Homo sapiens: one gene and its partner. The protein of the gene in region 1 purifies or fractionates together with the protein of each later gene. This does not show direct contact. Each region holds a gene or a part of one and is shown in the gene's direction. Other genes may lie near its edges.

What was found.
Region 2: the proteins of LMAN1 (region 1) and PCDH1 fractionate together in Homo sapiens (co-fractionation; one large-scale study listed by BioGRID). This does not show direct contact.

Annotation. Positions count from the first base shown.
Region 1 is NC_000018.10:59,335,214-59,338,865, reverse strand, and holds part of LMAN1 (protein ERGIC-53 precursor), read left to right. Parts: coding exon 1-106; intron 107-238; coding exon 239-309; intron 310-3,652. UniProt on the Homo sapiens protein: Mannose-specific lectin. May recognize sugar residues of glycoproteins, glycolipids, or glycosylphosphatidyl inositol anchors and may be involved in the sorting or recycling of proteins, lipids, or both.
Region 2 is NC_000005.10:141,871,905-141,875,556, reverse strand, and holds part of PCDH1 (protocadherin-1 isoform 2 precursor), read left to right. Parts: intron 1-3,652. UniProt on the Homo sapiens protein: May be involved in cell-cell interaction processes and in cell adhesion.

The DNA of each region.
Region 1 (3,652 bases):
GAACCGGCAGTTAGATATGATTCTTGATGAACAGAGAAGATATGTCTCTTCCTTAACAGAGGAAATCTCTAAAAGAGGAGCAGGAATGCCTGGGCAGCATGGGCAGGTGGGCTTGCAGAATATGCAGATGTGCCCCATTTACCCTTTGCTGGAAGGGAAGTAAAGAAGAAGGGCAACTGTACTATGTGCTCATAGAATGTGGATTATTCAGCTTGCTCGTCATTGTTTCTTCCTCCAGATTACTCAACAAGAACTGGATACTGTTGTGAAAACTCAGCATGAGATTCTGAGACAAGTAAATGAAATGAAGTAAGTATGGAAAAGTAGCGTTTGTGTGTTATGTGATTTTTTTTATCCTAAATTTGTGACTTCAGGTGTGCAAGCACTGTATTGCAAGATTTCTGCATGAGGGTAAGAATCCCGTTCTAGATTCATTTTACAAATAGGGGACCATAAATACAGCAACTTTTAATATTCAAAAACTGCAAACATGTCTAAAGTTTTTAATTGTTTAGAGCTGGAAAAGAAAAAATGTTTTGGCATCTTTTAAAGAGATTTGTCAGTTACTTGACAGAGCCAGGTGTGTTCTTATATTTATAAAATATAAAAAGAATATGAAATAATATATAACACTTTTATGAAAAGTACTAGAGGAATAAATATGTGTAGCATTGTAAGACTATAATACAAGCAGACCTGATGCAGGAAATTCTTTTTGATGGAATGAAACCATTTTGAACGTAATATGTGTGACTACCTCTTTTTCATTCCCATCTTTTACTCTCAGAGAGACTGGACAGAGTTGGAGCAGAGAGGAGATAATTGTGTCCTTAGAATGTTGAACAATAAATTTCTAATGAGAATGATTGACTTATGCAGATAATTAATAGCTTTCAATGCCTGGAGCAGAGATAACAAACCATAGTGTCATGTTTCCATAACCTAACATTTCAGAGCACTGTCCCAACCGATAGAACCCTTGACAAACAAGAATGTCAAGGTGAGTTCTTTAGGACTGGAGAATTAAACAAGGTTAGATCAAACAGAAGGTGATTATACCTGATGTCTAGAGATTAAAGGCACTTAACTTATAACTGCAAATTTATATTTCTTCAATTTTTCTCTTTGCATTTTAAAAAATCTTCATAATCTGAACTCATGATTGAAATATTTATGATGCTAGATGAATAGTTTAGCTCTTCAAATAGTTTAGTTAAATGAATAGAATCCTTTTAGAAATAGACTGGATCATGTAACGCAACCTTTTTAAAAATCTTTTTATTTCGATCTAATTTTAGACCTCAGAAGCTACAGAAATAGTATGGGAAGTTTCTATACATTCTTCACCCATCTTTCTCTAATTTATATAACCATGGTTTAATTGTCAGAACCAGGAAATTAACATTGATACAATTCAATCAACTAAATTAATGACCTATTCAAAATTTATCAGTTTCTCCACCAAGGCCTATTCTATTCCAGGATCCCATCCACAATCGCACATTACATTTAGTTATTTTTTCTCTTTAGCCTTCTGCAGTCTGCAGTAGTTCATCTTCCCTTGTCTTTCATGACCTTGACATTTTCCAAGAGCATTAATCAGTTAATACCTTTTGATTTGGGTTTGGTTGGATGGAAGTTCCACATTTTGATAAGAAGATATTATATATTATAATATGTTATATAATATAATTATATATATTATTATATAAGATTGGTAAGATATTACTGATGATGTTGGCTGTGATCACTCGGTTATGGTGGTTTCCTATTGCTATCTCTACTTTAAAGTTACTGTATTTCCCTTTGTGGTTAGTATTTTGGAGAAGGTACTTTGAGACTATGTAAGTATCCATTTCAACCTTCTGCTCATTCATTTTAGCATCCATTGATGTTTCTTGCCTGTAACAAGAAAGTGGTTTTTGCCAAATGCTGATTTTTTTTTAATTTTTATTTTTATGTATTTATTTATTTATTTTTTTGAGACAGGGTCTAGCTCTGTTGCCCAGGCTGGAGTGCAGTAGTGCAATCACAGCTCTCTGCAGCCTCAACCTCCTGGGCTCAAATGATCCTCCCATCTCAGCCTCCTGAGTAGCTGGGACTACAGGTACATGCCACCACACCCAGCTAATTTTTCTATTTTTTTTGGAGTTGGGATTTTGCCATGTTGCCCAGGCTGATCTCAAACTCCTGGGCTCAAGCAGTCCTCCTGCCTCTGCCTCCCATAGTGTTGGGATTACAGGCGTGAGCCACCACGCCTGGCCCCGATGTTTATATTTCGAAATAATTCCCTCCATATTTGTTCATTGGAATTCTGCTGTCAGGACCAACTATCTTTTCTCTCCCATTTATTTATTTAGTTATTTATTTAGATCAGTTCAGACTCATGGATACTTATTCCATAGGTTACAGTCCAACACTCTCCTTATTTATTTTGCTGCTCAAATTGTTTCAGGTATGGTCATTCTGAGCTCCTTCATGTTGGCATCTTTGTTCTCTCAACAAGCCCTCATCTTTTTTTGAGCATTTTAAAAATTTATGGTACTGCTCTATCTTCTAGGGTCATCTTGTATTTTCTCTGCCCTCAGTGAGCCCTGGTTCCTTTTTCTTGAGAAAGGTATTTGAAAACCAACCTTTGGGCACTAGGTATGCTCATTACTACCGCGGTGCCGTTACCTCTAGGCCTCTTACTGGACAGAGCTAGGGAATATACATATGTATACCAACCCATGCATGTACATGAGTCTGTAGTTCCGTGTCTGTCAACCTACTCTTGTGTTAAACCATGAGATTATGCAGATATTTTGGATTCTGGCTGGACTGAACACTACAGAGTTAATTTTTAACTTTCCCCCTTGTCTTATTTGAAAATTCTTCCTCCAACAGGGAAAAACCTGGTTCTTATTATCTGTATCTATAACATATTTACTTATTGGTTTCACTTGAGTATGCATATAAGTACACACAAAGTGGTTTCAAATTGTTAGCTCGTATCCCTGTGAGAAAGACATTTACTGACAAGTTTATGTAAAGTTCCTTTTATCTCTAGCTTTACAGTATCCAGCCCAGATACTCTTTTCCAGATAGTTTCTTAGTGTAGTTCTCTTTTTCCCTACTCTTTTCATTATGGCTGATATTACTCATTTAGGATCCAGCTAGATTCTTTGTTAATGTTTATATTCCTCCTATATCCTGGTTGATTTAAATTGTTTGTATTTTGGGTATATGAATACTATGGTTCTAAGGGGCAGAGCATGTGTATATCGCTTCTTCATCCTTGCTACCACTTTCCCATCCTCCCCTTCTTTCCAGCTGTTTCCCACCCATTCCCTCTTGGTAACCAATTCTGTTAGCTTCCGGTTTGTTCTTCCTGTATTTCTTCTGCATATACGTATTTTCTTTTTCTTTTCTTTCTTTTTTTTTTTTTCTTTTGAGATGGAGTTTTGCTCTTGTTGCCTAGGCTGGAGTACACTGGTGCAATCTTGGCTCACCGCAACCTCTGCCTCCTGGGTTCATGCGATTCTTCTGCCTCAGCCTCCCGCCTAGCTGGGATTACAGGCACCTGACACCATGCCTGGCTACTTTTGTATTTTTAGTAGAGATGGGGTTTCTCCATGTTGGCCAGGCTGGTCTCGAACTCCTGACCTCAGGT
Region 2 (3,652 bases), on another chromosome or scaffold:
TGCTGAGAAGGGGGTTGAAGGGCCAGGAGGGGGCCGCGAGGGTGGGGGAGGAGCTAAGTGGGAATCAGGGTTCGGGGAGGGGTGTAGGGAAAGAAGAAGGTGAGGGCTGCCCCTGCCGTGAGCAAGGATAGTTGGTGCAGAGATTCTGTTCAACAATGTATTGAGCACCTTTTATCTGCCAGGGTCCATGGTGGGTGGTGAGGATGCAGTAGTAAGAGACATACCATCATTGCCTTCATAGGACTTACCAACCAGCGAGGGGATTGGCTTGTTTATTCATCGAACCAAGGAGCACCCACTGTGTGCCCGATGCTGGAAATAAAATGGTCTATTCAGCAATTAGAAGACTTAGAAAAAAAAATGATTTGTCCTTTACATGTAATGTAAATAGACCTTAATGTAATAGACCTTATAGGCATGAGATCTCATTTAATTCTCCCAAATAATTTCAAGAGGCAGGTTTCATTATTTCCATTTCACAGTATGGAAACAGGTTCAGAAAAGTAAATTCACTTGGTTAATGTCACACAGCTAGGAAGTGGTGGAGCGAGGGTTCTAACCCCAACGATCTGACATGCAGGTGCCCAGAAGCCCTGCAGAGGCTAATAGAGGGTTGTGGGAGAGAGGGGAGAGGAGCTGAGGTCTGCACACTTGCTCTCTGTGGGAGGCTTCTGTTCAGCTCCACCCCACGCAACCCCATTTTCTTCCCCTCTCCCCGCGACAGTCCGTTTGTCCCTTGGTGTTTTGTGCCCGCGGCAGTGACCGTTGTGTAACAGTGCTGGGGTGAGGGTGGGGAGTCAGAGCTGACCTGGCTACTGGGACAGTGGTGGCTGCCTCTGTGTGTTTTTTCTCTGGCCACAGCACTCAGCAAAATGGACCTTGGTCCCCGGGGTGGGCTGGAAGTGAAGTTTCCGGGTGAACTCTCACCTCTGTTCTCATCCCTTCCCAGATGTTGACACAGACAGTATTTCCTTCAGCTTTTCTGGGACTCCGTCCCCTCCTTATCCCTTACTCCTACACCCCTGACGGCACTTCTGCTCCTCTATCTGAGGGACATGGGTCCCTGCGCCTGTTCCCCCTCAGGCTCTGGCTTCTCAGGGTCCTGGGTGCCCATGTCACTGGGGGGAGGTAGGGCACCGTTGCCCAGGAAGGCAGCCAGGGCCCGGGGAAGGGCAGATAAGGCGCTGCATGTATCAAAGGCTGCTGTGTGGGATTAATGACTCCCAGTGCCCAACTGCTGGGGACAAAGTTCAGAGATGGTGGGAACACGGGTGAGGGAAGGCCTCCTTATTGCTGCTCCTGCCCTTCCAGGCCACCCTGGCTCTCTTCCTGCATTTCTACGGGCCCCTGGGTGAACAGCAGCAGCCTAGGAAGCCTGGGCTGGTTCATTCCTTGACCCTTAGGCCCACTGTTTCTTATTCCCTCCTTACGGGGCAAGGTTGGCAGTCCAGGAATGGTGGGGAGGCGGGTGTGACATAACAGGAATCAGATTCTAGCCTCAGATATTTCTGTTTCTTTCCCCCAGACTCTGGGATGTGAAGAGGCATTCTTGTTTCTCAAGTCCTGGTTCTTCCACATACTACTTCTGTGACTTAAGACAGTTTATTCTTTCTCAGCCCCCATTTGATCATCTGTAGTATGGGAAGGAGTGTAATAATAAATACTACCCATTTGAGAGGGTTGGGAGGAAAGAGATCATGTGTGTAAAATGCTTAGTACTGATAAAATCTTAGTGTTTGCTGAGATGATGATGATGATGAGTGATTATGATGGCAAAGGTGATGATAAAAGTTTGCAGGGGCTGGGCGCAGTGGCTCACGCCTGTAATCCCAGCACTTTGGGAGGCTGACGCAGGAGGATCACGAGGTCAGGAGATCAAGACCATCCTGGCTAACACGGTGAAACCCCGTCTCTACTAAAAATACAAAAAAAAAAAAAAAAAATTAGCTGGGCATGGTGGCGGGCGCCTGTAGTCCCAGCTACTCGGGAGGCTGAGGCAGGAGAATGGCGTGAACCTGGCAGGCGGAGCTTGCAGTGAGCCGGGATCGCGCCCCTGCACTCCAGCCTGGGCAACAGAGCAAGACTCCGTCTCAAGAAAAAAAAAACGTTTGCAGGACCGGGCCAGGCGCGGTGGCTCACGCCTGTAATCCTAGCACTTTGGGAGGCCGAGGCGGGCAGATCATGAGGTCAGGAGATCGAGACCATTGTGGCCAACACGGTGAAACCCCGTCTCTACTAAAATACAAAAAAAAAAAAAAAAAAATTTAGCCGGGCGTGGTGGCACGTGCCTGTAGTCCCAGCTACTTGGGAGGCTGAGGCAGGGGAATTGCTTGAACCCGAAAGGTGGAGGTTGCAGTGAGGCCAGATCGCACCACTGCACTCCAGCCTGGCAACGGAGTGAGACTCTGTCTCAAAAAAAAAAAAGAGTTTGCAGGACCTCAGGCTCTTTCTTAACTCCCTGGAATTATCTCAAAGTTGTACCCAGATGGTCCGACCATTGCATCACAATTGCTTGGGGGTTTCTCTAGGTCCCACCTCCTGAATAAAGATTCCTAAGGGTGGGGCCAGATAATCCTCATTTTGAAGAAACTCTCCAGATGCTTGAAAGGCCTAAGCCCTCTTCAACTCCTTTCCCCACTGTGAGCAACTCTCCCCCAACCCTGTTTTCCCCACATTCCTCCTACTTTCTGGGACCTTTCCCCAGCCCCGCCATCCCATACCTTCCTTGAGCTGGATATTATCCTGTGGTTCTCCTTCTCTTTCCAATTCAGAGGTTAGATACCACAGTCCTTAATTGGTTCTTTTGCTGGTTGAAGGTAAGACAACTCCTCAGGGTGAGAAAGAGCGTGTGGGGAGCGGAGGTAGTCTCACAAGCATGTGTGCCTGTTCTGCCTAGGAGGTTTGAAAGGTTATAGGGCCTCAGGTTGTGACTGTGAGATGGAGGAAGCCTGAGGCAGGGGCTTAATTCGTAGCTCTTGGAGTGGCCACACATCATTCGCCCTGACTGCCAGATCATGGCCCCCTGAATTAGCGGCTAAAATTTGTGAACAGTCATTTTTCCTGGAAAAATCTGTACCATGGTTTTATAAAATTCTTGAAGGAGGATGTGACCACAGAAGATTAACTATCTTAAGTATCCTCGATCTGGAGAGAACAGAGGCAAACAGTGACTGCCTTATTTATTCTCTTGGTCAGGTTTAGGGTAATTCCCGTGGGCTTCCCACATAACGCCTCACCTGCCAAGACTTTTGTAGAGAATTAGGGTGCACAGTGATACCACATTGTATATGCAGAGGAGGGTGGCAGCAGGATACAGTCCCATAAGAAAATGAGGTTCTCTGGTGATGGTCCTTTGACGATGTGTTTGGGTTGGGGTTGAAGTAGTCAGATGAGCCTTGTGCCAGGTCCATGCAGGTGGAGGGGGGGGGTGGGGGGTGGATCCAAATGGAGTACAGATAAATTCCTGCTTCCTTTAAAGAGATTAACATTCACACCAATCTGATAACGCCGCACACACTTTAGGGAGGGGCCTGTGCTTGGGGAAGGCCATACAGAGGAGGGGATGTGTTTGATTTATCTAAAGACTCTGTGCATTCAGTGAACATTTGCTGAGAGTCTACTATGTGCCCTAAACAGAGAAGACTTACATTTT